Regions from separate parts of the Homo sapiens genome. Here region 2 is linked to region 1. The links come from fine-mapping of genetic effects on gene expression. A gene starts in region 1. The other region holds a variant in brackets. All regions are shown on one strand. Distances are between the middles of the regions.

What was found. PIP is the estimated chance that this variant, and not a neighbour inherited with it, causes the effect.
Region 2: its variant is fine-mapped to the expression of INPP4B in whole blood (TOPMed, PIP 0.97).

What each region holds. Positions count from the first base shown.
Region 1 is chr4:142,840,989-142,853,105 of GRCh38, forward strand. INPP4B (inositol polyphosphate-4-phosphatase type II B) reads right to left here and starts at 5,313. Exons shown (of 26, transcript NM_001101669.3): 1 at 5,221-5,313. The region is part of intron 3 of USP38-DT (USP38 divergent transcript); the gene reads right to left. It overlaps LOC124900788 (a long non-coding RNA gene), which reads left to right and starts at 10,486. Exons shown (of 2, transcript XR_007058286.1): 1 at 10,486-10,663. RefSeq lists an enhancer at 6,070-6,656.
Region 2 is chr4:142,699,606-142,711,722 of GRCh38, forward strand. The region is part of intron 2 of INPP4B (inositol polyphosphate-4-phosphatase type II B); the gene reads right to left. Among named protein-coding and RNA genes, the nearest start is that of INPP4B, 140 kb to the right of the region's middle. The variant C/G (reference allele first, on the strand shown) is at 5,636.

The DNA of each region.
Region 1 (12,117 bases):
AAAAACAAAGTGATTTACAGGTTTTGTTAAGGAAGACAAGAAATTTTTACTTTTTTAAAAAAAAGTGATTTTTAACTACTGCGCATCAATTATGCAGCTATTCTCTTATGAATGTGATGTATGCTAATCTCTAAGTGGAATATGTGGTTATCTAGCAAGTTTCGCATAAGAAGATGTTGAAAAAGACATCATAGAGTGTTAACTGATCACTAACAGTACTTTAAAGCTTCCTTGGAGATAACCATAATCTCCATGCACCTATAGGTTCTAACTTCAATTAAAGATCCCACTGGTTTTAGTCCTACTTTATTTTTTATTTTCCCAGCATTGAATAGTTTTTGTGTTTTGGTTGTTCTAATGGCAAGAGCTCATCTCTGATCTTTTGGCTAAGAAAGCAAAGCCCCATGAAAATGAATGAGAACCATTTTGAAAGAACTAAAGGAAAGATTGCTATTGATGGTCAGGGAGTATATTCTATTTAATTCATTGTATTCTAAAATGGTAGTCCCCAAGTCTGATCTACTTAATGCACTACAACTATCTATTCTAAGAACTAAGGTGAAAGGTGAAAGGCTCATATTTCTGTCAAATTTTTCATAGTAAAAAATATTAAGAGGATTCCTTGTAAATCATTGTTGCTTAACATTTAAAAACTCACACTCTCTTTTGAGAAACATAAAAATCTCGAAGTTCTCCTTCAAAGCTATTTAAAATATATAAATAAATGATCTATTATAAACAACTAGTAAATGAAAATTTTTAAAAATCATATTTTTCTTTTGATCTTGGAAGATGCTTTACATTGATGCTGTTACTCCAATCATTAGAAGTCAGCATGACAATTAAAGTTGTCTGTGTATCTCGCAAACTTTTCTATCCTTGTAAAACAACAAAGAAAAACAATTGAGTAATTTCACCATTGTTTTTTGTATTGCTTTATTTTCATAACCAGAAGAGTATGTAAAGATAGATAGATAGACACAGATAGATAGATTGATAGATAGATCGATAGACAGATAGATAGATACAGGCTCTCCTTTTAAGGGAGGAGATGTTGCCTTCATTCCCTTGAATATTATTGATTTAGATAATTCCCAAAGAAATGTATAACCAAAACCACATGATTTGAAAAACTTCTCAAAATTTCCTTTAATCAGTTTAAACAAATTACTGCCAATTCTATTTCACTTAGTTCTTCATAGGGCTATTTAAAATCAGGACACCAAGTTGGCATGGCTGCCTAATACAGAAGATAGAATTTACTCAAAATACTGCAACTCAAGAAACTCAGTTTGAAATATATTATTTAAGGACATATACTGTATTGAAACCCAATTCACATCATGCTGGAATGACATCTATTATAATAGCTAATGTTTGGTGAAATTACACAGTCCATTGAAAAAAATCTAAAGTTCTGGCTCCTAGATATTCCATTGGCCTTATGGTATACCATTGATAGCAAGATACTTCCAAGAAATAAGAAATAAGATAGTGAGTACAACTGTGCCTTATTTAAAAAACTATTACATATATTATATTATAATATATACAATATCTATTATATATAATATATAATATATGATATATAAGATAGTTATTGTATTATTATATGTATAATATATAATATATTTATATATAATAATCCTAACATAATATATTATGTTAATATATAACATAATATAATATTAATATATTAATATAATATATAATATATAAATATAATATATTAATATATTATAATATTAATATAATATATAATATATCTATAATAATCCTAACATAATATACTGATATATAAATATATAATTATATATAAATATGTATGATATATATAAATTTATATATCATATATATCAAAATATATATAAATAATGATATATATAAATATATATGATTATTATATATTTATATATAATAATATATATACTATATATAATATACTGGATATATATAAATATACATATATAAATTATATATAATGTAGTCCATAAAATTTCCTAAACATTTTAAATGTTTCTTTTAATCTACAAGGTAGTGAAAATATATTTAAAAAAATAAACTAACACAGTTTGATTCAAGTGACCATTGTGCCTGAGACTGAAAGAGTAATTAAAATTTTTGCACATATCTTAATGTCTTTTCTAGGTATATACTGATCTTTTCTAGGTATATACTGCTCTAAAGTTTTAGAACACAAAGACTACATGTATCTTGCACAACAAAATTCAATCATAGCATCATCACTTGGATTCATCTAAAAATAAATGTTTAAACTAAAATTATTTAATAATCTCATTTCTGAAGCCTAAATATTATAGTATATATGATTAGAGTATGCTCTAAAGAGCTCTCTAATCAAAGGTTTCTAGCTCAACATTTTTTAAAAGTATTAACAAAGTGGCCTATGGAAAAGATTCCTTAAGGCTTTAGAAAGATATACAGGACATGTTGAAAAACTAAGGTACATAATACAGAAGAGACTCACACAGCTTTCACCTGAACATTTAACTTGAGATTATTTAAAACAGGGCATTTCTATCTATTAAAATCCCCATAGTTGTGAAAGACAAAAATTTATTTTGTACAGATTAGGTATGATATTTGTATATCTAATATTAGTACTACTGGGCATCACTCAGTATGAAATAAGAAAATGTAATAGATATTCAGTAAGCATTTTACTCACTAATTATGATTCCATAATTTCTTAACTTTTTGTTCTCAGATGTCAAATACTTACCTAGAAACTGCCACTCATTTGGTTGCTATGAGTTTTAAGATCAGTTAGCAGGTTTTTTTTCTGTCTTTCAGAGAATTGTCATCTTGGGTTCTCCCTCAAGGTAGTGAAAGTTAACTTTGTTACCCATCTGGGGATTTATAGTACTTATACTAGAAGATGCTCCAAGGTTTCAGAAAGGAATTAATTACTTTCAATTTGCACAATTTAGAACAAATATCTGGCTTTTCCCTAAGCTTAATGATTTTCCATTTCACACAACTAAAATATAATAGCATTATTTTATAATCAAGTTTAACTGATGGTCTATGATAGTAGAGCGATTTAGTATTTTGACAAAAATCTTATGAGACATGAAGTCATTCAATTTGCAGCCCCAAACTGAAGCTCAAACACAACATTTTAAAAGTATTTTCTGCCTATACCTTTGACTGCATGCTACTTTAAATAGAGGGACAAGACTAAATGGTCTATCTGGTTGTTCTTACACTTTATAAAGAGTCAAAAGCAAATTTGAGTTATAAATATGCACATCATAGTGATCATTATTTTATCACAAATAAATATTGATTTGCTTAATCAAAGAGAATACTCTCCTAGAATAAGAGCAGTATTTCAATCTGCAAACATGTTTCTTAATGTCACTGAGCATTTAGCCTATCTTCACACACACATTTCATAACCTTTCAAGGACAATCTTCTACATCACATTTTAAGGAAATACACTGAAAAAGCAATCCATTTTGCAATAGCATTTTACATTACTACAAATTCACGAGGTTCAACCTTCAATGCCCATGTACCTTTCACAAAACTATTGATCATTTCCTATCAATGCTTTACAGGATTATATCACAAAGGAACACATAATGCATGTATGTGCATCAATGCGTAAAGGAGAGGATGCATTTCTGTGCATAGTATGTGAACTGACAATGCCCACTTGCCCAGTCCTTGCTTTACTCAACTTCTTACACATCATCAGCCAGCTGCCCTGTTGATGATTCCTTGCACCTTATGCGCTGCTTTATCATTGAGTCAGATTACTACCATTTCTGGTCCAGAACTCATTAAGAAAAGTCCTTTTTCAAGCAAGGTCTTTGAAATGTAGTTGTACACCTATAAAAGAACTATCTGGAGCTCATCTTGAGAGAGAGAAGATGAATTTATCCTCTGTCTTTAGGCTTTTACTTACAGAGCCACACCTTTATAAACAAGTTCTGTCTGTCATACTGACAGGAAGGAGATATGCAAAATGTAACATCTGGAGTCATAAAATATAATGACCTCAAATAACATTCCAGAAAGAGAAAGGAAAACTAGTTCTGGTTAGGGAGAAGATAAAAGAGGAAAAGGAGTAAATTTACATCCTTAAAACAAGAGTAATAGAAAACCCTACCGGGTTTTTCCAGTAAGTTTTGTGCAGCAGCAGCAACAACCTAATCAATATGTGCTTCCTCACCCTCTTGTCCCCAAAGAGAAACTGCTGGGCCCCTCTCCACCGACTCCCCAGGAGCAGAAACTACTGCCCCCAAGGAAGGGAGAATTCAGAAGCGTGGGGAGGGGGAAAAACAGGTATATGTGGTTCTAGCATCCTCATCTTCATATCAGCTACCAGCCTGAAACTACATTCAGGAACCAGGCTCCCAGACATTCCCCGGCCCTGGGCCCTGCCTGAGCGCCAGAGAGCTTGAGGAGCCTGCAGCATAGTTCTCAGACCCGAAACAATGACCTCCCCCGTCCAAACCCAGGCACTCTTGCGCCAAGGCCCTAACCTCTCAGCGAGACCTCTTTGGGGAAGGACAAGAGATGCTGCCTGATGGCCGAGAGAAGACATGCCAGGCTTCTCTGCCAGAATGAGTTGTTGAGGGTGGGATGAAGGTGGTCAAGGAGATGGGCTCTTTATTTTTAAAACAAAAAACAAGGCAACCGGGACCACCAACATCAGTCACCCTCACTCCCCACCACTGCCTCTATTCCTTAAGGACTTCTTCCCAGGCCGGCGGCGGCGGCGGCGGCGGCGGCGGCAGCTTGCGATCATCAGGATTGGAAGTGAGAGCGAGTGCCCGGGCCAACCTCAGCGTCTCTCAGGGACAGCGCAGGTGGGCGCAGCCTTGGAAGGTCAGCGAGGCCAGAGCTCAGAGTTCCACGGGGGCCCGGAGAGTGTGCGTGTGTGAGTGAGAATGCGAAAACGCGCGCGCGCCGGGCAGAGGGGCGCTCGGCGAGAGGGTAGGCGCGGTGACAGGGGTACCCCAGCAGCCGAGGAGAGACAGCCCACCCCACCCTTTAAGCTAAAGAGCTGGAGGGGTGATGGAGGCTGCAAGACGGAGAAACTTGATGCAAAACAGACAGGCTCCCCCCTCCAAGACGTGCCGCCACGCTCTCAGACACGCTCCCTCGCCTCCCGGATTACCCACCATCAACCACCCCACCCTGCAAAATTCCCCCACCGAGCCCTAGGATCCCAGGCGGGTAATTACCTCTCCCGGAGGCGGAGTGGGGGGCGGCAGCAGCAGCAGACACTTTTAGCCTGACTTTCCTGCGTTCGCTTGCGAGCGTGTGAGCGTGTGCGCGCCCAGGAGGAGCTGTAACCTGCTATTTATAGACCGAAGCCTCAGTACCCGGGGCTGAGAACCCGGAGGAAACTAGCAGGCGGCGGCGACGGCGCAGGGCGCCGGCCGCGGCTTCGCGAGGCTCCAGCAGCTCCCCCAGCCTCTGGCTTCGGCCGCGCTCCCTGCTCGCTCCTCGCCTACCAGCCCCGCGCGCGCCCCAGAGAAGTTGTCACCAGCGCGGCTGGCTCTCCGGCTGCTCACACGCCCCCTGGCACAATTGCTACTTTCTTCCACCCCAACCCCCACCCTCCCCGCTCCTCTTCCTCCTCCTCTGCTCTCTCCAAGCGGTCTCCTCCCAATGTCACCAGCGACCGAGTAGAGGCGGCCGTGGCAGCGACAGTCGCGCAACTGGCGCTGCTCGCTTCCCGCTACTGATAGAGCGGAGATGGTGGCCCGGCTGCCCACCCCGAAATTACCACGCTGGCTCCGTGTGCTCACACCCCGTACCCCGACCCCTTTCTGCGGCCCCTCTGCCCGCTGGGTCGCCCACCCAGACTGGGCTGTGGGATCACCGCTACCGCGACGAGGGGGGACCCGAGGCCGCCACGCTGCTGCGGGGGCAGGAGAAACCACAGAGAAAGAACCCGCGGGAGGAAGAAAGCGCCCCAGACCCCGGCCTATGGCAGCGCAGTCCCTAGACCGAGGGTTTTTGGAAGGGGCTTGGGATCCCTGCTGTCACTGCCTGCGTCTAGGCATCCATTCACGCCTGCTGGACCCCAGTCTGCAGCCGCGCTGGGACCCCTGTCTCTTGCCCCTCCTCCCCCTTGCCCCGGGCAGAGGTCGGGCTGAGGAGACCAGCTTAGAGCAGCCCTCGGCCACCCACCGCCAGTTCCCACGTCGCGGCGGGTGACTGAGGCCGAGATGCTCCCAACTAGCGTATGACATGCCTTTGATATCCCGGGTGCGTGGGGACAAATCCGCCCTGAATGTGTTGGGGTATCAGGAAAACGGGGTATGTAAGCAAGCAGTCTGGACGGAGACTAAAACTCCCCCACTTCCTAGCCCCTAACAAGCCCACAGGGGAAAGCACGCACCCTGGTTATTCCGGGCTGTGTAGGGTGTGGGGCAAATGACTCTCCCCATCTGCGCTTTACAGGTGCCACCTGGCGGCTCTCTCGGAAAGGTTTTGATGGAGCCGTTCAAAGGTAAAGGTGCCCAGAGCCAGCCCATCAAGACACCCCAGCCCTTCTCCCTGAGGGCGCTTTAAAATCACATTTTAAGTAAAGCAGTGTACGAATGCTTGTACACAAGTGTTACATTTGCCATGCAAAAAGACTGGAATCTCAAAGTCAGGACAGTGAAATCAATTTGGGTTAAGTCGGGGCTTAACAGTTTCACAAACCAGGAAGCTGTATGTACCCCCAGCTGTCACCCCTGCTGTCACTGCCCGCATCTAGGCATCCTTTCACTCCTCAAACCTTTGACCACCACATTATAAGCCTTGCCAATGAGGACAGGGACTTTGGGTTTGTTTTGTTTTGTTTTGTTTTGTTTTGTTTGGTGGGGGGAGTTGTTTGTTCGTTTCATTTATTTTTTTCATCACTCTGCTCCCAGAGCTTGGGACAATACCTAATATTCTGTAGTTTCAATAAATGTTTATAGAATCAAATAATAAACACTATAGGCCAGAAACTGCTTGGCGCCCCCGAAGCCCTTCCTTTTGCTTCTCTTCAAGCTTTTTCTCCTATGCTCAGCCTCTACCCCAAGTGAGCTGAATGCAGAGAGATAGGAGAGTGAGGAACAAATAATCCCTGTCAAGATGTGGATCAGCTTTGAGAAGCCTTCACACAGTTAGATTTCTCCTCCATGGGGCAGCACTGAACACACCCATCTCCAAGCAATGGGTAAGCCGTGTTCATAGAGATCTGCTGGAAAGATGATACAACTTTCTCACTGGGCAGTTTCTGATTTTTCTCACAATAGAGAGAGATTGAAATAATATCAGGACATTAGGATGTCAGAGCTTTGCTACTAAATTGGAAATATGGTTAACATATCTGTCCTCTAAGTGGAAGAGTGTGTGTGTGTGTGTGTCTGTGCGTGTGTGTGTTTATGAAGACTACAGCAGCAATGCCAGAAATACCAAACCATACCTCCTAAAAGACTGAGTTGTAAAATAAATGCAGTTACTGATTCTATGGAAATGGACGTTTAAAGTGAGATGCTTAGAGGACCCTATTATAATTAAAGTCCAGACATGGACCATGCTGACAAAGTCCTTTTACAGGGCGGCTGAAGAATATGTGACTTACTTGTGTACATCACGTAGGAAGTTTGAATTCTCAGAAAAGAGAGAATATGAATCAGGATGCCATCAGATGCATGTACCACAAGGCATTTTTAAAAATCCATCAATCATCCTGATATTTACCTTTTTTAGTTATTTGGTGGCTTTTTCCTTGAATAAGCCTGGAGGATTCAGATGCTTCCGTGGTTTAATAAACTCATTCAGCATTCACTTTTACAAACCTTGAACTTTTGCTGACTTGTACCCCCAAAACATAACTCCATTTGCCAATGAAGGACAAAATATTTTTCATTTCCTTTTGAAATATCTTTGTAGGGCCAGAAGTCAAAGGTGATTCCCTGTAGTTACCTTGCTGTCTAAAGCAATAAAATCAAGCCAGGATCTACAGGGTTGGTGTCACACTCGCCTTTGCAGTGAAGCAGCCTACACTCTCTCCATAGATTCATTGTTCCTCTAGATTTTTATCTCAGGTGAGATTAATATGACATCATATCTACTTTTATGATCCTTCACTATTCAAAATCTCTTCTAGAATATAGCACCAAGCATCATATAGGTTTTTTAATGCTTACTCAGTTATGTTAACAATAACTTGTAAAGTAAGTCCTTGTTTTCATCTCAATTTTTAAAAACTTAAAAATTACAGAAACTTTGTTATGTATACATTAGCATCATCTCTTGTGTGTATATTGTGTGTGTATGTCTGTGTGTATTTAAATTAAGGGGGATGTTGTTAGAAATAAGAACTAAAGTAAAAAGGATAAATTATTGTAAAGATACTTGGCTGCCCCATGGAACCCCAAAACAAGAATGCAACTGGGCACTAGGAATGACTGGAAACAGACAGGCCATTAGAACTTTCTCTGTCTCTTTTCCCCCACTACATTAACTGTCCCATTCTGTATCTCTCTCCCTCTTTCTCTCTCTCCCCACATACATTGTCTCACTCTCTGCTTCTCTGGTGTGCACTAAATTGCATGGTGGCTAACGACTCTTAAACTTTATAACTTGTGAACCAGTTCCAAATTCTCCAAGTACTGTGATTCTTCCAGCTACCAAACCCCAGCCAACAACCTTGGCCAGGGATGGTAATCAAGTGACATTTTCATACCTACTGTAGTAATTAGGTAGATTATAGTGGGAGGCTGAAGAAGAAGAAAAAGGATGAAAATTCCCAAAATGAGGGAAGGAATACAGGTCATTCCTGACCACTACTATCTCCTATTCCTGGTTGTTTCATCAACATTGACACAAAAGACAAAAGAAAGTAGGAAAAAGAAATATTAAAAAAGCAATAATGTCTATGGTGTATTAATGCATATGCATGTTTGAATATTGAATAAGATGGAATGCCTCTTACTGTTGGTAGTGCTCGAAGATAGCTGTTCCCAGTATAAGTAGCAGTATGATTTTATGATCTCTCGGCATGGGGCTGGGTGAGTATGAGAAAGAAATCAAGTTTTTCACAGACAGTTTACTTTAGCTTCTTTTTTCATGGCAAATTAAATAAGAGATTTTTAAAATAAAACAAATGAGTGTGCTAGAATTTTACATTGATTGAAAATAAATATTCGTGGCTCTTGCGCTTTGCATAGTGGTTATATTTGTAAAATTGTATGTAAATCATATATTTGAAAATGAGTCACATTTCAAATATAATAGGGTGGTGAATCTTAACATTTTTGCAGTCATAAATCCATTGGAGAATTTGAGGAGAGCTGTGGACTCATTTCCCAGAAAAATATGAGCATGCACACACACAGTTACAATGGGATGTTATATGACATATTTATTTGAGACCTGGAACTTAACACTTTATATTGCTTTTGTCTTCCCCCAGTCATTGTTATTTGAACAAATGAAATAAAGACTCCAGATTCTTAAAACCTTCAAAATGCCCGGTATGTACAAGCCAAAAAATGGGTTGGGGTGGGGGACATATGTGAATGCAGAGAACTAGCTCCCTCTTCACCAGCTCCTGCTCCAATGAGTCCTAAATAAGCTGTAGTAGGAAATGAAGACTGAGCTCTTAGAAGGAGGGGAGAGAGTTATAATGTGGGGAATGCTGTATTCGTCCACTAGGGATGCCATAACCTCTTACCAACAGGTTTGGTGGCTTAAACAATAGAAATGTATTTCTCACAGTTCAGGAGGCTGTAAGTCAAAGGCTGAGGAATAGGCAGGTTTGGTTTCTGAGGCCTGTCTCCTTGGCTTGCAAATGTTGCTGTCTCGCTGTGTCCTCAGGTGGTCTTTCCTGTGTGCATTTGCAGCCCTGGTGTCTGTGTGCGTCTAAATTTCCTCCTCTTATAAGGACACCAGTCAGATTGGATTAGGGCCTGCCCTAATGGCCTCTTTTAATCTAATTGTCTTTTAAAGGCCCTATCTCCAAATGCAGTCATATTCTGAGATACTGGGTGCTAAGGCTTCAACATATGAATTTGAGGGGGACAAGATTCAGCCCATAACAAATGTGCACTACAACAAACTCCAGAAAGGGTCTGGGGGTGAAGTTTGGATATAAATTTCTCCCTTCTGTAAAGAGGACCCAAGAGTAAATACTTGTACTGTTTTCCCCTTGGAGTATCAAGAAGGCAAGGGTGTAAAGTGGGAATATAAATGCTAGCATGCCTTATCTAGATCCTAAAGGGCTAATGATCCCTGGGATTTTGTTGCCTAAGTGATGAGGAAGAGGCTGTGGTTCCTTTGGGCTATAGGAGGCCTGGAAGTTAGTCAGGAGTGACAGCCAGCAGGACAGGTAATCACCAAGAGGTCCCCTGGGAGGGCGACCAGATTAAATGCCAAGGAAAGGGCGTGGCCTGTCTATGGAAACATAAAGGTGTGGCTACAATTGCCATGGCAATGACCTCAGAAGAGTCAGTGGCTATGCACTAGAGTAATGCCATCTTCATTCACACCTCTAGAATGGAAGCCAAGTCAGCTCTTCAGAAAATGACAGACATGTCCCCCAGTGTCATGATGCTGTGTAAGTCTCCCCTGGACCAACAAGCTCCCCTGGAAGTAAAGGCGAAGGAAAAATGGGAGGGGCAGCAATACTTAAACTGAGTAAGTTTTAAACCAGGGTAGACTTGGTTTAGATTACTGGATACAACTAAGAAAACTAAATTAAATTTGCTATTTCTGAGTACAAATAGGGGCTTATAATTAAGTTAATTTTATGGTAGAAAAATTATGTTCCACTTTTTATACCCAAGGTTTAAAAACTTAACTGATATCCTTTTATATTTCATGTTTTAATATCTTCTCAGGAAGCTCATTGATACCCCTGAATAGCATCTATGATTCCATATTAAGAATATTTGTCCTAGATGATCTGATTCTTTAAATCTGGTTGTAGGAAAAATATATTTAACTGAAAAAAAATCTGCTAATATATATAATTCTCACTGATGTATTGTTTGAAATGCTATTTTCTTTTTTTTTTTTTTTTTTTTTTTTTTTTTTTTGAGATGGAGTCTTGCTCTGTCACCCAGTTTGGAGTGCAGTGGCACGATCTCAGCTCACTGCAAGCTCCACCTCCCAGGTTCACGCCATTCTCTTTCCTCAGCCTCCCGAGTAGCTGGGACTACAGGTGCACACCACCACGCCCAGCTAATTTTTTGTATTTTTGGTAGAGATGGGGTTTCACCGTGTTAGCCAGGATGATCTCCATCTCCTGACCTCCTGATGCTGCCTGCCTCGGCCTTCCCAAAGTGCTGGGATTACAGGCATAAGCCACCGCATCTGATCCTGAAATGCTATTTTCTTAAAGAGAGTAGTATCTGTAAGTTACAACATAATAGCTTACATGATTATGTTTAGCAAATGCCGGCAAAAGAATAAAATCACAAATGAAAAATTATAGAAAAGCATTAGGTAAAGATAGCTATATTCAAATTTAGGGGGATTGAAGGTGACAGTATTATGCTGCTTCATTTCAAGAAGTAGGAAGCTTTTTTTAACAGAAGTCTTCAAAAAAGAAAGCATCTGAATTAATTATTTTTGTTACTCTCCCTATTTTCATCCAAACACTTTTTTATTACCTAATTATGTCACTAAAAGCATAAAATGGAAAAGAACCTTATATATCAGACACATTTTAGGAAATGTTTGTGGTAATCAGAGAGATTGATGAGAGCCACTCGCTCTTTCCAGAAGTGAGCATCTTACCTCTGAATATTTTGTTAATTTTCTTCATCAATGTCTCTATCTTATCTTCCACACTTAAAGACATAAATAGATTCTTCTCACCTATTTTCAAAACTTTCTCTATATCTAATCATCTTGTCAAAATACCATCCTGGGTCTCTTTTTCTTGGTATAATCCAGCTCTGCCATCTCCTGGTGACCTGATTTTGGCTGAAATAGACCAACTGTAATCACCAGAGCAAGTCAGAAGAATTGGTCAGATGTCAGGAGAAACTAGAACCTCTTAGTTAAACCTGTATCTCTGGAGACTCCTCTCCTTCATTTGTTCATCAAGGCAAAATTCGTGCTTCAGAATTGGACAAATTAGGGCT
Region 2 (12,117 bases), 140 kb before region 1:
TCCATTCACTCATGCATATACCTCAAATTCTATTAAATACTTTTGTCTCCTATTAAACATCTGACACCCCCTCCATCTTTATGTCTCTCTGACACTGTGCTTCCTATTTCAGTAAGAAAATATAAGCAACTGGAAGATATGCAAGCTCCCATCAAAAGGTATGCAATATCTAGACCCTTTTAACAACCTCATCTGCACTTGTATATCTTGCCTCTTCTCCATCATTGTGAGTCAACTCTATATGCATTTGTCTAAAACTAACTCCAATTTATACTAAATCTCAACTCCTCTTGCCTACTCAAGGGCATCATTTTAGCATTTTTTTTCTACAGTTTTCCCCTCTCCACCAGTTCTTTTTCATCAGCATACAAACAATCTATTACTTCTCCCATCTTAAAAGAACAAAACAAAAAAATTTTATTCAGCAACCACCCTCTTTCTCTCTCTCCCTGTATAGTAAAGCATCTTACTAGATTTGCCTATACTCATGGTTTTCAAATTTTCTTCTCCAATCCTTTCTTGAAACCATTCCAATCAAGCTTTGGGACTCATCACTTTATCAAAAGTCTGATGATGCCAAGTAGTATCTTCTAAAACCGCAACAGGGAGAAAAAAAACCTAGTGTCACAATAAATGAGGAATTTGAACAATACATGGATATGGGTAATAATAAACTTTTTATTATTTACAATGAAGGCACCAAATTTAACTTAAATAATGAGAGCACTAGTTGGACACATTTTATGGCTTCTCTTTTCCATAAATTCACAGTACTGAGTTGAATATGGTTTTTATAATTCTTTTTTGTGCTGTATCTTGTATTCCTTCAACTCAATCTATAGGAATTGAAGATGAAACCAGTCAATCAGATTCCTATAGAATTGTACTTATTTCCATCGTAGGATAGAGAATTACTTCTTTTCTTCAAAGTATCTGTTCTAAATTCTATTAACCCCTTCATTCCATCTTTTGGGAAAGAAAAGAGCAATCTTATTTAAGAAAACAGCTAGTCATTGTACACTTGCCCAATTTTTAACTCATTTTTGCCCTGTCTTATTTGCATGAAATTTTTTTTTTATTTTTTGCAGCAGGTGCATTTTCCTATCTCAGATTATAATCTTTTCTTAGAAGTAGGTCACATGACCTTTCTGTGAAATTATGTGTGGTTTTGTGTTTGTGCATCAGTGAAATGAATTTATATTTTTATACCAGCTTTCAGTATAAAAACTATCTGGGCCAAGGATTATTAGATAATATTATACCTAAAATATTATAAAATATTGATACCCAGATGATTTAAACATTTATTATCTCAGAACACATTATGGTTAAGATCATGTATCAGTCAGGGCTATAGATCAAAAACAAAAGAAACAGGCTCTGGCTACCTTAATCCATAAGAAAATTTATTGGAAAGATAACAGCATTAATGAAAGGCTAGAAGGCCAGTCTTGGGGAACTGGTGGGAGGAATGGAGCCCCAAGAAAGTAGGAATCACAGAAAAGTTTATATGGCAAGAGCAAACTGGTCTGCTTGCCACTCCTGGAGCAGCCTCTACTTGAAAGTTTCAGAAAAGTGCAGGTGGTAAACAAGGTATGTCATAATTACCACTGACTGTTCCAAAGAGGAGAGGATATCCCACCCATTTGGTCTCCATACTGGTTAGTAGGTACTCCCTCCTGCCAGCCTCTCCACAGTAGGAGATGCCCCAAAACAGAGGGTGGAAATGATGTATTATAGCCAGGAGAATGAGGAAGGTCAACTCTAAGGCTCCTTAAAGGAATGCCACATGGATCCAATCAGGTCAAGGGCAGCCACACTCTAACTGGTGCAATCAGGCTGGCATGATCATCAGATACATGCTGAAAATGAAAAATAATAACAAGCAGCACCGAGCAGCCAAAAAAAAAAAAAAGGTTTCATGGAAAGAAAAAGGGATTTGTCTTGGTAACAGTTTGGGCTTGTTTCTATTTCACCAAATACATATTAATATATATGAAATTGTAGAATTTTTTGTTAAACACTAGTTTGAAAGACCATTTCTTCTACTAGATACCTTCCTGAACCATTGCTTATAATCAAGCTCAGGAGTAAGGAGTTAGTACCTCTACCTTGATGTGCAGAGGACACAGTCGACTATGGAGAGCCTGAAAATCTGGTACTGTAGGTGATAAACCCTTCTAGACATCTATCAAATAGACACTTGGGTAGGTTGACTACACAGGTGAACTACAGAAGTTTCTCAAAATTGAATGAACACAATAAATATTTGTATTTACTCAAATATTCTAGATATTTTGATGTCTACTATACTATATATACTAGTACTAAAAATGTACTCACATTTATTACATATTATGAGAGTTCAACACAAAATGAACTAGGTGAAATCAGACTACTGGAAAGAGTTAGGCTCCCACTCACACTGAAGCTTAGCCAAGTCAAGCCTAAGTTAGGAGCCTGAGCAATCTGTTAGCAGTCTTACCAATACAAGGTTTTCCTGGCTTGTAACCCCACACACAGACCCTGTCATCTTTTCTGTGCTTTCATGGCTTTGTCCTCTTTAAGCTTTAGTAGTTTCTTTAAAAAAAAAAAAATCATTCTTTCAAGTTCAAATTGTTTGTTACAATTGGACACAAAAGACTCCATATAGGCACTGGGTAAAGTTGATTTCTTGTGTGTGGTTCACAGAATTCTTGTTGATGAGACCCTCTTAAAAATCATCTACTCTTCTTTATTCCAGTCTTTAGCATATTCCAGAAAGCCTAATTACTTATTGCAAAAACATAAAAATAGAAATCTCTTCACTAGATTATGATTTAAAGCATGAACTTCGAGGCCAGGCGCGGTGGCTCACGCCTGTACTCCCAGCAATTTGGGAGGCCAAGGCGGGCAGATAACCTGAGGTTGGGAGTTCGAGACCAGCTTGACCAACAATGGAGAAACCCCATCTCTACTAAAATTGAAATACAAAATTAGCTGGGCGTGGTGGTGCATGCCTGTAATCCCAGCTACTCGGGAGGCTGAGGCAGGAGAATCACTTGAACCTGGGAGGCGGAGGTTGCGGTGAGCCGAGATCACGCCATTGCACTCCAGCCTGAGCAACAAAATTAAAACTCCGTCTCAAAAAAAAAAAAAAAAAAAAAAAAGAACTTTGAATTTACTTTGGGTTCACAAACTATAACATTTTTAAATAAAGATTGATTTCTGCAAAAAAAAATTTCCCTAATTTGGTTGCATAGCATTAGTGATTTTGCTGCTGACTACATCTGAAGTTAGATAACATTGAAGATGTTTTTATCAACAAGTGCTAATATCTATCATGTTGAAGAAAAACTAGTTTATCTAGAGCACTTGCTCTGGAATTAATAAGATGTGAGTTTAAGCTTGGCTCAGAAACTTAGTAGCCATGTTATTTTGTGCAAGTTACTTAACTTCTATCAGCTCGATTTCCTCACCTGCCAAAGGAAGACAATATGTAATGATTAAAAGGAAGAGATTGTGAAAAAACTTGGTACAGAACCTGTTACTCTCTCTCCTGCCCTCTTTGTGAGTCTTTCAAGGCCATTTTTATCCATTAGTTAATGTAAATGAAACTCTCACAATGTCCTCAACTTGTTGTATTGGCCCTTCCAAACACAGCCACTTTCTCACAAATAACAAGTATGTATTTGAAATCTCAGAATTTTAAATTAATAAATAGTTTTCCATTTTTAAAAAGATAAATACCTTACAATAATGATAATACATTCTGCAGCAAGTTAGATTCAATGGTTAGGTCACAATACTATTATGGCAGAAGTACTATTAAAGGAACATTATGAGGGGCAGAGATGACAATGCCAGCCTTAAACAGATTGTTAAGAAGGCTAGAGAGAACAAGAGCTTCAGGAGAATAAAAGAAAAATGTGCTCCCAAATTTAGTGATGAGTCCAGGGAGTCCCATTAAACAAATTAGCAGGTTTGGAACATAGGGTTTGATGTTTATGGGTATATAAATAAAAAGCTTGTTTTCTCTGGGGCAGCTTAATTTACTACAGCATGTCTCATCGTTTCTGAAAGAATGAATGTTGCAATTATTAGTACCCCAAAGAATTAGTTCATCCTGGGATAAAAATGGGCTCCTCTCTGAGGGCAGAATGCATTGGTACCAAACTCTGGAGCATAAAGAAGACCAGATGCATTCCAGTAGGTAAAGGGGGCTAACTCAGGAAACAAGTGAACTAGCAGCACCAGACTAGTAACTCAGAAGAGTGGCTGATTTCTGGAGCTCCACCATTTGGTGCACCCCAGTATGAGAACATTACCTTCAAAGTGTGGAAGGAGATGGTGTATCCAAAATCTGGCACTTAACTAGCCAGGAGCAAGGACTGACCTTAGAAGCAAAATGGGGTGGTACCTCCCCAAAACCAATGAGAGTGTGTCGGTAGGAATATCTATTAGAAGAAGCTGTGTTTCACAGAGCAGAGGACTCAAGGCCTCACCAGCAACACAGGATGCAACGGGATGGCAAGATAAGGAGGCCGGAATGAACAAACCACAGGAACTTGTTCCAGAACATGTATGAAGAAAACTTTTAAAAACAAAACAAAACAAGCTGGGGCATGATGGTGAGGTGGTAGAGGGGAGACACAGAGTGAGACTGATAAATAACGTATTGGAAACATTTTGAGATAGCTAATTTTCAGCAACAAATCAGTAAAGAACTTCTGCCACAAGAATTTACTATAAAAATTAATTGCATTGAGTTATATAATGGTGAGTACAATGACATATGAATTACATATAATTTGGTAAAACTACCCCTTGAGACATCAACTTTATTTAAATCCTGTCTAAACAAGACATGTGTGGCCTCTATGACTTCACAGAATGAATTCCTTCATTATGCAGGATTCCCTTAACTTCTTGCCACAAAACTTACACATTCACAGGCTTCTACACATTTTTTTACTCATTCCTCCCATTACCATGGGGAAGTTAAATTTAAAATTAATCTCCCTCCAATGCTCTGTACGATATCCTTCCCAATTGCTCAAAGATCGCTATCATTTGCATATTCTTTTTCCCTGCATCTTTCACGTTCTTTTCTACTCACTTTTCTCTATTGCCACGTAAACATGCTGATGATTCCTTTATTCTTAACAAATGACAAGAACAACTCTCCCTCAAGCCCTTGCTCCTGATAGTCACTGCATTTATTCTTACCACTCACAAACCTGTTGACATAAATGCCAATTTCGTATGTACTTTTCACCCCCACCCATCCTTCATGTCACAGTAATCTGGCTTTTGCTTCTACCTTCCCTGATTAGTGCCCGCTTAACCATCACTTTGTCCCTTGACTAACCACTGAATTTAATGCATTTCTCAGTTTTTATCTTATTTAGCATTACAGAAACGTTTACTCTTATTGGCCTTTATCCCCTTGAAATTCACCATACCCTTTCTGGTTTTCCCTCAGACTTTTGTTCTCAATCTCTTTTACTGGCTCTTTTTGCCTCTGACTGTTCTTAAACTACTGCTCCTTCCTGGTCATATTTTATTTCCAATCTACACATATTTCCTGGAAATGTCCTCCACTGCCCTGGATTAGATGGGAACCTTGATGTTCAGGACCATCGGTTCTCTATTG[C/G]CAATCCAGATCGTGCTTCTCCGCTGGACAGCTTCTACAGACACTTGCGTGGGCTTTCAATCCTGCACATTCACTGAATGTATCATCTCCCACAGACTGACTCTCCTTTTTTTGTGTATCTCAGTGAATGACTGAAGCCATGAACTTAATTGATCAGTAAAAATTCTGCATATCATCCTTCTCTTCCTACCAAGTCTCTCTACCCATTCCCACCCCAAACACACACACACACACACACACACACACACACACACACACAAAGTCAATCATATTCTCCTGATTTCCAAGAGTAGATTACTTCTCTTCAGCCATTCTACCACCCTCGATCATATATTGCTTCTGGGAAGCTGCAGTTGGGGTGATATGTCCTAATGGTTCCGAGCATGAGTCTCTAAGGCAGAGATTGATTCCTACCTCTGCCACTCATTCACGGTGCTACTTTCAACAATCTATTAATGTCTCTAAGCTTTCATCTCTTCATCTTTACAGCTGGCATTATTATAAACTCCAGTCTCACAGGATTATCTTAATAATTAAATGAGATAATGTACAAGGTTTTGTTATAATGCTGTCAAATAGTTAAGCACTCAGTATACTGCATTAGACAGTGTTTCCAGGCTGCCAGCCTTACTCCTTGGTATCTATTCTCCACAGTGCAACCTGGGTGATTGTCCTAAATGGAAATGTAATAAAGCTCCCAAATTAAAACCATTTAGTGGCTCCTGTTACACAGAGGACAAAATCCAAATCCATTAAGGTGACTCACCAGCTCCTTCATGGCCTGGCCTCTGCCACACTCCCAGCCTCATCCCTCAACCTTTCCTCCTGTCCTGTTATACTGACAGGTAATTTGCTTCCATTCTACCTAAACTTCATGCTTTTACATCTCCAAACTTTGCAAATGCAATTATCCACATTTGAACATCTTTCCCACTCCTGTTTGCCTGGCTAACACTGTCAGGCCTAAGCCCTCGAGGCCATTACCTTGGCTGTGAATACGCATAGCACCTTGGCATACCCAGAGCACAGCTACATTTGTTTGGCTGCCTGTCTCCCTTTCTGGATTTTAAACTCTGTGAGAGAGTGGCGGATATGTATGTTGTTTACCTTTGTACTTGGTTCATGATTGATATTTGATAACAATTTTGAGAAACTATATCAATCAATCAATCAGTCAATAAGTTCGGTTGCTTAATGGCCTTATAGAGAGAAAAGGAGCATCCTGTCCTTTGTCTAGTCTGGCTAGGGGTATGTATTTGCTTATCCATCTGTTTCATGTGTTTTGTTAACATGCCTCAATATCCAGAGCTCAGCCACCAGAGCTGATGACCTGACATTAAAAACCACTAATCCATTAAGCTGCAATCATCCTAGGCTAAGGCTAAACAAGCAAGCTTGGCTTTACTGCATGCTTCAAAAATAAATCCCATTGGCTGAAGTTTAAAGCAGGGATCTCACATTCATACACCTACACAGGCCAGACAAGCCTCACAAATGAGTGATATGCATTATACACTATGCATTTGCTGGGTAATATAAGGGGCTGAGCTTAAAGGAGAATACAGGCCTTGTCTAAAGACGCTAAATATTGCTCAACTCCAGTGAATTATTTCAGATCTTCTGGCTTATTCTTTACACCTGGAAATCTAAAATTTGCATATGAAGCTCTTCATTTTAAAACTTGGCTTATTAAAATAACAGGAAACAAACAAAACAAATCTATGGGATCTGTCTGGCTCCTATGAATTATCAATTCATAATCTTAACTTTAAACCAATGAGAAAGAAGACAGAATTGTAAGTTGTGAATAGATAAGTACTAAACTGTCAAGTCCACCAATCCCTGCACTGGATCAGCATCTTCTTCTACTCAATTACTCTCCAAAACTTCACTGTTATCCTCAACCACTCTTGACATACACTCTCTTACTCTCAGCAGAAGATCCTAATTCATATAGAAACTCAGAGATATTAGTAAATAACCTCCTTGTCTTCCCATTCTCAGTCTACAAACTTAAGTATAATTGGAACCACTCAACCTCAAACGAGAGGTGGCCATTCTCTTCTTTAAGAGGAATGCTCCCACCTTTTTTCCTAATGCAGTGCCATCCCATTAATTATTTTGTCTCTATCAAGGCTCCTTAGTTATGTCTTTCTGATATGGTTTGGATTTGTGTCCCACTTATGTTGAATTGTAATCTGCAGTGTTGGAAGAGGGGCCTGGTGGGATGTGATTGGATCATGAGGGTGGACTTCCCCCTTTCTGTTCTCATGATAGTGAGCGAGTTCTCATGAGATCTGCTTGTTTAAAAGTGTGTAGCACCTCCCCCTTCACCCTCTTCCTCCTGCTCTAGCCACATAACATGTACCTCCTTCCTCTTGGCCTTCTGCCATGATTGTAAGTTTCCTGAGGTTTCCCCAGCCATGCTTCCTGTACAACCTGTGGAACCATGAGACAAGTAAACTTCTTTTCTTTATAAATTACCCAGTCTCAAGTAGTTCTTTATAGCAATGCAAGAACAGGCAAATACAGAAAATTGGTAGCAGGAACTGGGCATTGCTATAAAGATAGCTGAAAATGTGGAAGCACCTTTGGAACTGGGTAAGGGACACAGGTTGGAACAGTTTAGAGGGCTCAGAAGAAGAAAGATAAAGGAAAGTTTGGAACTCCCTAGAGACTTGTTAAATTATTGTGGCCAAAATGCTGATAGTGATACGGACAATGAAATCCAGGCTAAGGTGCTCTCAGATGGAGATGAGAACTTATTGGGAAATGGAGCAGAGGCCACTTTTGTTATGCGTTAGCAAAGAGGTTGGAGGCATTGTAACCCTGCCCTAGAGATCTGTGGAACTTTGAACTTCAGAGTGATGGTTTTGGGTATCTGGTGGAAAAAAATTCTAAGCAGCAAAGCATTCAAGATATGGCTTGGCTGCTTCTAACAACATATGCTCATATGTGTAGGCAAAGAGATGATCTGAAACTGGAACTTATTTTTAAAAAGGGAAGCAGAGCATAAAAGTTTAGAAAATTTGCAGCCTCACCATGTGGTAGAAAATAAAGACCCATTTTCTGGGGAGGAAATCAAGCAAGCTGCAGAAATTTGCATAGGTAAAGATGGAATGTTAATAGCCCAGACAATGGGGAAAATGCCTCAAAGGCATTTCAGAAAACTTCAAGGCAGCCTCTCCCATCACAGGCCCATAGGGAGGAATGGTTCTGTGAGCTGGGCCCAGGGCCCTGCTGCCCTGTGCAACCTCAGGACACTGCTGTCTGCATCCCAGCCACTCCAGCTCCACCTGTGGCTAAAAGGGCCCCAGATACATCTCAGGCTGCTGCTCCAGAGGGTGTAAGCTATAACCTTTGGTGGCTTCCACATGGTGTTAAGCCACGTGCACAGAGGGCAAGAGTTGAGGCTTGGGAGCCTCTGCCTAGATTTCAGAGAATGTATAGAAACACCTGAATGTCCAGGCAGAAGTCTGCTGCTGGGGTGGACCCCTCATGGAGAATCTCTACTAGGGCAATATGGAGGGTAAATGTGGCGTGAGAGGCCCCACACAGAGTCTCCACTGTGGCACTGCCTAGCAGAGCTGTGAGAAGAAGGCTACTCCAGACCTCAGAACAGCAGATCTACCAACAGCTTGCACCGTGTGCCTAGAAAAGCTGCAGCCACTCAATACCAGCCTGTGAAAGCAGTGGAGGGGGCTTTCTAGCCCTCCACTGTGGTTCTACCCTGCAGAACCACAGGGGCAGAGATGACCAATGCCTTGGGAGCCCATCCCTTGCATCAGAGTGCCCTGGATGTGAGACATGGAGTCAAATGAGATTATTTTGGACCTTTAAGATTTAATAACTGCCTTGCTGGGTCTTGGACTTGCCTGGGGCCTGTAGTGCCTTTGTTTTGGCTGATTTCTTCTTTTTGAAATGAGTGCATTTATCCAATGCCTATACTCCCATTGTATCTTAGAAGTAACTAACTTGTTTTTAATTTTACAGGCTCATAGGTGGAAAGGACTTCCCTTGTCTCAGATTAGACTTTGGACTGAGGACTTTTGAGTTAATGATGAAATGAGTTAAGGCTTTGGGGGACTGTTAAGAAGGGATGGTTGCATTTTGAAATGTAAGAAGGACATGAGACTTAGGAGAGGCCAGAGGTGAAATAATATGGTTTAGATTTGTGTCCCTGCCCAAATCTCATGTCAAATTGTAATCACCAGTGTTGGAAGAGGGGTCTGGTGGGATGTGACTGTATCATGGGGGCAGACTTCCCCCTTGCTGTTCTCATAATAGTGAGTTCTCATGAGATCTGATTGTTTAAAACTATGTAGCACCTCCCCTTCACTCTTTCTCCTGGGATGTACATCCTTCCTCTTCTCCTCCCACCATGAGTGTAAGTTTCCTGAGGCCTCCCTGGCCATGCTTCCTGTACAGCCTGTGGAACCATAAGCCAATTAAACCTCCTCCTTTATTAATTACCCAGTATTAGGTAGTTCTTTATAGCAATGCAAGAATGGACTAATACACTTTCTTTTCAACTTATTACCTGCTTTGTCTCAGAGGGGAAATTGTCCTTTGATCTGTAACCCCCTCTATCTATTGCCCACCTCTCATTTCCTTTCAAGTTTATTCTTCATACTGTTCTATAAGCTTTAGCATTGCATTAGCATAGATTTACAGCCCAGGAGGAAATAATCATTTCTATTGGCGTACGCAAGTTTTCTGACTTTCAAAAAATATATTACTTAATACTATTTGTTTATTTGACAAATCTGTATTAGCCTCTAGTATATGCCAAGCACTGCTCAAGAAGGATCCATTCCAGATCTCAATAGGGATGAAAGCTCTCCAGCATAGTTAATTCCTTCTGCTCTAGGCCATGGATCTCCATCTCAGAGGTCATAGAGGCAGAATAAAATCAAAGTAGGGAAACTTGCCCATATTTTTTGTTGGCAGGATAAATTTATGAGCACAGCCAATGCCTTTAACTGTATACTGAGTCTTAATGATACTAGAATACATTTGGATTAGCTTTCCTATTGATTTCCAGTTTGTGATTATTCATTGAAGGGTAAAAATTGTATATGTAAGAGAGAGATGATGTTTTTGAAAGTTTCAACAAAATGGCCAAGATATGATACTGACAAACATGGTAGAGGATGTGGACAATGGTTCCAAGAAGCAATCTTTTATCCCTGATTGCTACATATGATCATGTTTTTGAAATCATGAGTCAAAACCCTAGAGTGGGTTATAAAATCAATTTAATAAAATGTAGCATTTTTTTAAAAAGATAATAAAGAGGAGAATGGAAAATATGAGTGTACTGCACATATAAAAAGTAGTTTTCATGTAACAAAATATTATTTTCACATATTGAAAGCCACTTATTTGTGTCTACCAAGCTTCATGAATGAGCAATCTATATCCTCCACCTATACCTCATTACTTCCCAATCTCAATCAGTTGTTTTTGCTTTAGTAACTCCACTAAAACTATTCTTGAAAATGCCACAAATTTACTTCTATTTGTCAAATTTGATGTATCTCCTTCAGATATAATACATTCATAGTTGAATTCTCTGCAGTGGTGTACATTGTTCATATCTTGTTAAAACTTGCACTGTCTTTGCTTTTGTGACAACACAAATGATTCTCTTCCCATCACTCTGGTATTTCTCTCTAGTTTTTGTTCCTTGGTGTCTCTCCCTGACTCTACTCTTCAAATCCTGGCACTTCTGCAGAAGAGAGCATGAGCCTTAGAGAAGCCATATACACTAAAATTGAACTTTATCTCTGCAACATGTCCCTTCCAACACCTCTTCTGGGCCCCATTACTATTGTCTCTTGCCTAGATCTTTCCTTCTGTTGATTGTCAAAAGTAGCTAGAATGGCCTTAGTGAAAGGAAAGTCAGATCAAAGGTTTTGATTCCTTTTATCAAAACCACTCTTTGGTCCTATGACCTCCTTCCAGTCTTTGCTCAAATAGAATCTTCTCAGAGAGGCCTCCCAGGCCTCCCTATTTAAATATATAACTCCAGACCCACCACAACGTACTCTGACCCCCTTTCCAGCTTTATTTTTCTCCATAGCCCCTTTATAGAATACTTTATACTTATTTGTTTACTGCCTGTCTTCTTTAACTGGATCATAAGATTGAGCACCACAGTAATTTCTGTTTTGTAGACTGCTATATTCCCAGCATCTAGAATCAGTGGCCCATAGAAAAAGACTAATAATATTTATTAAAAGAATGAGTGACTATCATCAATCATTTATTATTATTCTTATCATGGTAAACCTAAGAGTACACATGGCTATGTGTATTATGCTATTCAGTTATCTCTCACTAATACAGTTTTAAAAAGGACTCTTAGCCATTGCTATGGTCTGAATGTGTCCCCACAAAATGAATATGTTGAAACTTATTTGCCAGTGTATTAGTATTAAGAGGTGGGGACTTTGGAAAGTGATTAAGTCATGAGGACA